Regions from separate parts of the Homo sapiens genome. Here region 1 is linked to region 2. Evidence: fine-mapped expression QTL. A gene starts in region 2. The other region holds a variant in brackets. All regions are shown on one strand. Distances are from middle to middle. Region 1 overlaps SMPD3 (sphingomyelin phosphodiesterase 3). Region 2 holds the start of SMPD3 (sphingomyelin phosphodiesterase 3).

Region 1 (2,829 bases), 81 kb before region 2:
GCTCAGCCCAGGAGAGGTGAGGGATGGCCACAGAGATGCCCTGCACAGAGAGGCCGCTTACCAGCTCCTCATCCCCTGCCCCTGGGATTCCTTCCCTCCTGTGCCTCTGTACCCTCCCCAAGCCATGCAAATCCATTCCAGACTGAGTTTCCCAAGATGAGGAGACCCCAGACCCAAAAAGCACTCCAGGGAGGTGGCTGGGCAGGACACACTGCCTCTCCCAGTTGTTGGCTGAGGGCAGAGGGCCGCAGGGTGGGTGCCCCACATCTGTGGAGCTCACAGCAGCCCAAACGTCACAGCCCATCTGCTCCAACAGCCTCGGCAGGCTCCGTCCTTCCTTCACTGCTGCAGTCGGTCAGGCTGGTATTATCTCCTCCATCTGGACGTCCTCAGCAGCAGGTGCCCCTGGCTTTCTACAGCTCTTCATCCCCTTCCCAGCCCTAATGCACAGCCTTCCTTCCCCAGCACCTGGGGGTACGAACGTCTGGCTGTTCAGCCCCACAGGTTCACCATTCACTTCTTGCCCACAGACAGACCCAAACCTTAGCCTAACAGCATCCCCGCCCCCCGAATGGCTCTGTGAGATCACGCAGCATTGATGGTTCTGCTGCAAAAACAAAACACTGATGAAGCCGCCATGCTCAAAAGGCCACATGAGGCTGAGCACGGTGGCTCACGCCTGTAATCCCAGTACTTTGGGAGGCCGAGGCAAGTGGATCACCTGAGTTCAGGAGTTCGAGACCAGCCTGGCCAACATGATGAAACCCCATCTCGACTAAGAATACAAAAATTAGCCGGGTGTGCTGGGCACAGTGGCTCACACCTGTAATCCCAGCATTTTGGGAGGTTGAGGCAGGCAGATCACAAGGTCAGGAGTTTGAGACCAGCCTGACCAACATGGTGAAACGCTGTCTCTACTAAAAATACAAAAATTAGCCGGGCGTGGTGGTATGTGCCTGTAATCCCAGCTATTCAGGAGGGTGAGGCAGGAGAATCGCTTGAACCTTGGAGGCGGAGGTCACAGTGAGCCAAGATCATGCCACTGCACTCCAGCCTAGGCAACAGAGTGAGACTCTGTCTCAAAAAAAAAAAAAAAAATTAGCTGGGTGTGCATGCCTGTAACCCCAGCTATTCAGGAGGCTGAGGCAGGAGAATCCCTTGGACCTGGGGGGCGGAGGTTGCAGTGAGCCAAGATCGCCCCATTGCACCACTCTGGCCTGGGCGACAGAATGAGACTGTCTCAAAATAAATAAAAGACCACACGGGGGCGCCGTCTTCAGGCAACAACTGCTCCTCCTCCATGAGGATCATCTCAGGCCCAGTGGGCTCGTGCTGGGGTGGGGTGGCGACGCATGGACATTACTTTTCTGGGTCCTTACAACGGCTCAGGCACATGATAAAGTGATGCTGCTTTTACCGTTGAACACACTGAGGCCAGAAGTTGAGTTGTGGGCCGGGGTCACAGGCTCACATGGTCTAAGAGGCAGCTTCCAGTCGGATCTGTTTGT[CGTGCGCTGCT/C]GTGCGCTGCTCTGCGCTGCTTTCTGAGGGGCTGGTGTCTTTGCGGTTTCTCCCCGGCCGCCTGTTTGTTGGTCTTAAGGCGTCAGCCTCTCACTCATCCAACACTTGGTGTCACCTGCCCCGCGCTGTGTCCCGGACAGGGTTGGACACTCGCAGGGAGGCCTCAGACTGGGCCCTGCACGACAAGAACCCACTGGCCGGAGGAGTGACGAGGTCCTGCTCCCTCCCGCCCCGCTTCTCCCTCCTCATCTGCCGTGTGATCTCACCAAGATCCACTTGATTATTTGCTGGGCCTCATTGATTCCTGGCTCGTGGCCTTGGGAGCCGCAGAGCCTTGTGTTTCTCTTGCAAAAACAAGCAATCACACGAAAGGCTGTGCCTTTGAGTCCTGGCGGGCAAAGACTGTCAACGGAAGAGGTGTCCAGAATAAGGCTCTATTGTAGGTGAGGAAAAAGGGATTCCAGTCCCTTCCTTCACAGAGCCACATTTCCCTGAAGGCTCTGAAGTCCCATACGGGAAACCATGAGGGCCTTCCGGGAAGGAGGGGACCGCTGATTTCTGCAGCGAGTCCCTCCAGCGTCCCGGCCCCTCTCCGGCTGGGCCTGTCCCCAAGGCAGCCCCACGTACTTCACTTCTCCGCGCTGGGATCCGCGTGTGCTGGGCACACCACAGCTCTGCTGTCCTGGTGCTCTGTCTGATGGACAGACAAGACCCTGGGCACGAGGGCAGAGGAGCCCATGAAGGGAAGAGAGGATTGTGTGGCTGGCCGCTGAGGGAGCTCCATGAGGTGGTGTGGCCACACCCAGTGTGGGACCAAGACAAGCAGGGGCCAGGGGTACAGGAGCCCCTCATCGGGGTTGTGGCTGGGGCAGAGCTGGAGCTAAGGGTGGCGGGGGCAGGGGGGCGGGAGGTGGTACAAGGTGACGTTCAGACTTCCTGAGGCAGTGGAGGGCATAAGAGGAGTCACACCTGGCCTCAGACGAGGAGGGTGGCTGAAACCACAGCAGGGCTGATGCAGAGGAGGGGGCCTGGGCCAAGGGAGCTGGAGATGTGGGGTGCACCCAGGGCCATCTGGAAAGTGAGCTAGGGGCCTGGAATGGATGGGTCGGGCACAGGACAGAGCAGCCAAGGTGGTCCTTCTGGCTTCAGGATGGCAGAACACAGAAGAGGAGCAGCCCGGGGCAGAGGCTGAGTCTGGTTTGCGAGTGAATGGGGATGTGTCCTGGAGGCAGCCAGATGTAGGGCTGGGGGGAGAGGTCTGGGCCAGGACAAAGCAGAGGGGCCTCAGAAAGGGCAGAAATGGAAGCTGCA
Region 2 (2,899 bases):
CCCGCGCCGCGCCCGAAGCCCCCCCTCCGCGGCCGCGCCCCCCGCCCAGCCCGCGGCGCAGGCCTGCCAGTGCGGCGACCGCCGCTTTGTCCTCTCGAGGATGCCTGGGCCGAGCGCGAAAGCCCCATGCCTTGGAACAGCCACCGCGCGTCCTGGAAGCAGGTCCCCGAGCCTCGGTTTGGGGTGCGCCCTGCATCGGAGCGGAGCAGCCCCCAAAGATTCGCGGGCACGAGGTTGGGGGTAGCGTCTACCTGGAGCTCTTGAGTGCTTGAGGGGAGACCCGCCCCGTCCCGCTCTGTACATGCCCATCTGGGATTGGCCCCCAGCTGCGGTGCCAGAGGCTCGGTCCCCGGGGCGTGGTGGGCTAGGGCGGGTCGTCTCGACTTAGAGCCCCAGGCCTGGATCCAGGTAGGGAGGGCCTGGGAGATAAGGCCCAGGTGGGGAGAGGTGGGGAGGGGTCCCTCCTGTCCTCGTACATCCCCCTACACTACCTCTCACACCCAGGCCACCCAACCCTCGGCGCGGGCCCGAGCGCGGGGGATTCCGAGTGTCAGTGCTTTCCTCCACCCGCGACTCCGAGAAGGATGGGGAGGGGTCTCCCAGCGTTTCCCTGCCACATTCCAATTCCACCCTTCACCAGTAACCTAGGAGGGTCCAAGTGGGAGGGGTAAGAGTCCTCTGTCTCTTCCACATCCTCGATCCTCCTCTTTACAAAACCCTAGGGCCAAGGGAGGAGGGGGGAATAGGGAGGGGGGCGAGTGTGGAGGAAGGGGCCTGGGCAAGGGTCTTCCCTGCATCCCAAGCAGCCCTTCCTGAATACCCCTGGGAGGGTCTGGGCTAGGGGAGCGGTCCGCGATCTCATCCATCACCACCAGACTCCTTTGTAACCTCGAGCAGCCGAAGTGTTGCGGGGAGGGGTCCCCCTGCCTCGAGTCCCTTCATCCCACAACACCTCATCCTCCCGTCCTGAGTAATCCGAGCAGCCCCGTCGCCAGGCACAGCGGGAGGGAGGGTCCAAGCCTCCTCGCTCTCCCAGGAGAGATGGGGGGTGGGGGTGACCCCCAGCCCTCGCCCCTCATACCCAAGAGCCTTCTCCATGATAAAACGAAAACTAACCCAAGCTGCTCCGACCTCCGGCGCCCGGCCACGGGAGGCCCCTAGTCAGTCGGCGGCTGTCCGGGACCCGCGGTCCTGAGAGCAACGAGAACACGTCCCGTCAACTCCCCAGCCCCTCACGCCTCGGTTCGCCCGCTCCCCAAGAAAACAAAAGCGAATTCAGCAGCACTGACCTCTGACGGCGGGCGGGAGGGCGGTCAGCGCCCGGCAGCGCACCCCGCTCCTCCCGGCTCCTCACAGCCCGGGCTCCCGGCCGCAGATCTGGCGGCGGCCGCAGCGGCGGCGGCTCTCGCGGCTCTCGGGTCCGGAGCCTCCCTCAGACTCAGCACCTGGAGCGGCGAACAGCTCCGCGCTTCATTCCTCTGACCCCGCCTCCCTCGCGCCGCCGGAGCCAATGGTGACCCGGACCCCGCCCAGGAGTCTGCCCATTGGGGGCGTCCTCCCCTCTCCCTCCGGCCCCGCCCGCAGGTTCCTGGGTCTCTCCTTCAAGACCACATCCCCCAGAGACCGGCGGAGTTTCGCACAGCCTTCTGGGACTTATAGTTCTTTAAGGACGCGGAGTGGGCTCACGCCGCGGGTAGGCAAACAGAGCGGGACTGCATTTCCCAGAGTGCACTGAAGACACGGAGGCGCGGAGCAGGGCGGGAGGACCGTTTCCATAGCAAAGACGACCAGCCGAGGATGGCTGGCGGAGGCGTGGGGCAGGCCGCAGGACCCTCGAAGGATCGTGTGAGACCCCGGGCAGCCTCTTGGGAGGCCATTTCGAGGAGAAAACCTTGATTTCTGCCTCAGGACCCTGGGCCTCAGTTTTCCTATCTGAGAAGAAGGGCGAAGAGCTGTGCCCCCGACCACACCCGTCGGTGATGGGGCAAACCGAGGGCAAGCAGGTTTGGTTCCTGCCCAGCAAAGGTGAGGGAGGACGGAGGAGACTCTCCCACCGCATTCAGAACTTTATTCCTTTATTTTTGTCTCAATCTTGTCATAGAGGAGCGCTTCACTTTTGGTCATCCCTTGGGCCACCAGGGCCTTCCCGTCTCCGTCTTCCCATCGCAGGTCCTGGCCTCCTTCACACCACTCCAGGATACCGCAGCATCTCCCCCAGCGCAGCAGACGGAGGGCGCTTCACATGCCCCCGGACCTAAGCCCACTCTCCCCTTCAAGATCTGGACTCCACTTTTTTGCAACACTCTTAACTTCTTTGGAAGCTGGGAAGCCTCCTACTCCCTTGGGCCTCTCCACCCTGCCCTCAGCTAACTCGTCGGCAAGCCCCAGCCTAGACATTGCCTGTTTTGTGAAGACATCTAGATGCTGGGCTGTCTGTTGAGTGCCCCACCCTGTGTTTGAGCAGCACCCTCTACTTCCCCTGTTCTACTTGCATGTTTATGTGCTCGTCTTCCTCATTATAAGATCCACAGGGGAGGGGCCATGTCTATATTATTCATACTTACAGTCCAGTGTCTAGTATCTGGCACGTAGTAGGCACTCACTAGCTATTGAGATATAAATATAGATATTTGTTGAATTGAAAATGAATTGGGCCGGGCGTGGTGGCTCACGCCTGTAATCCCAGAACTTTGGGAGGCCGAGGCAGGTGGATCACTAGGTCAGGAGTTCGAGACAAGTCTGACCAAAATGGTGAAACCCAGTCTCTACTAAAAATACAAAAATTAGCTGGGCGTGGTGGCACGTGCCTGTAATCCCAGCTATTCAGGAGGCTGAGGCGGGAGAATCGCTTGAACCCCGGGAGGTGGAGGTTGCAGTGAGTCGAGATTGCACCACTACA

Evidence for each region. PIP is the estimated chance that this variant, and not a neighbour inherited with it, causes the effect.
Region 1: its variant is fine-mapped to the expression of SMPD3 in whole blood (INTERVAL, PIP above 0.99).

Annotation. Positions count from the first base shown.
Region 1 is chr16:68,365,927-68,368,755 of GRCh38, forward strand. All of the region lies in intron 3 of SMPD3 (sphingomyelin phosphodiesterase 3), which reads right to left. Among named protein-coding and RNA genes, the nearest start is that of PRMT7, 56 kb to the left of the region's middle. RefSeq lists enhancers at 1,063-1,616, 1,617-2,169, 2,596-2,795. The variant CGTGCGCTGCT/C (reference allele first, on the strand shown) is at 1,509.
Region 2 is chr16:68,447,064-68,449,962 of GRCh38, forward strand. SMPD3 (sphingomyelin phosphodiesterase 3) reads right to left here and starts at 1,445. Exons shown (of 9, transcript NM_018667.4): 1 at 1,290-1,445. It overlaps LOC124903705 (a long non-coding RNA gene), which reads left to right and starts at 1,777. Exons shown (of 2, transcript XR_007065097.1): 1 at 1,777-2,003; 2 at 2,102-2,899. RefSeq lists a silencer at 1,143-1,662 and an enhancer at 1,763-1,812.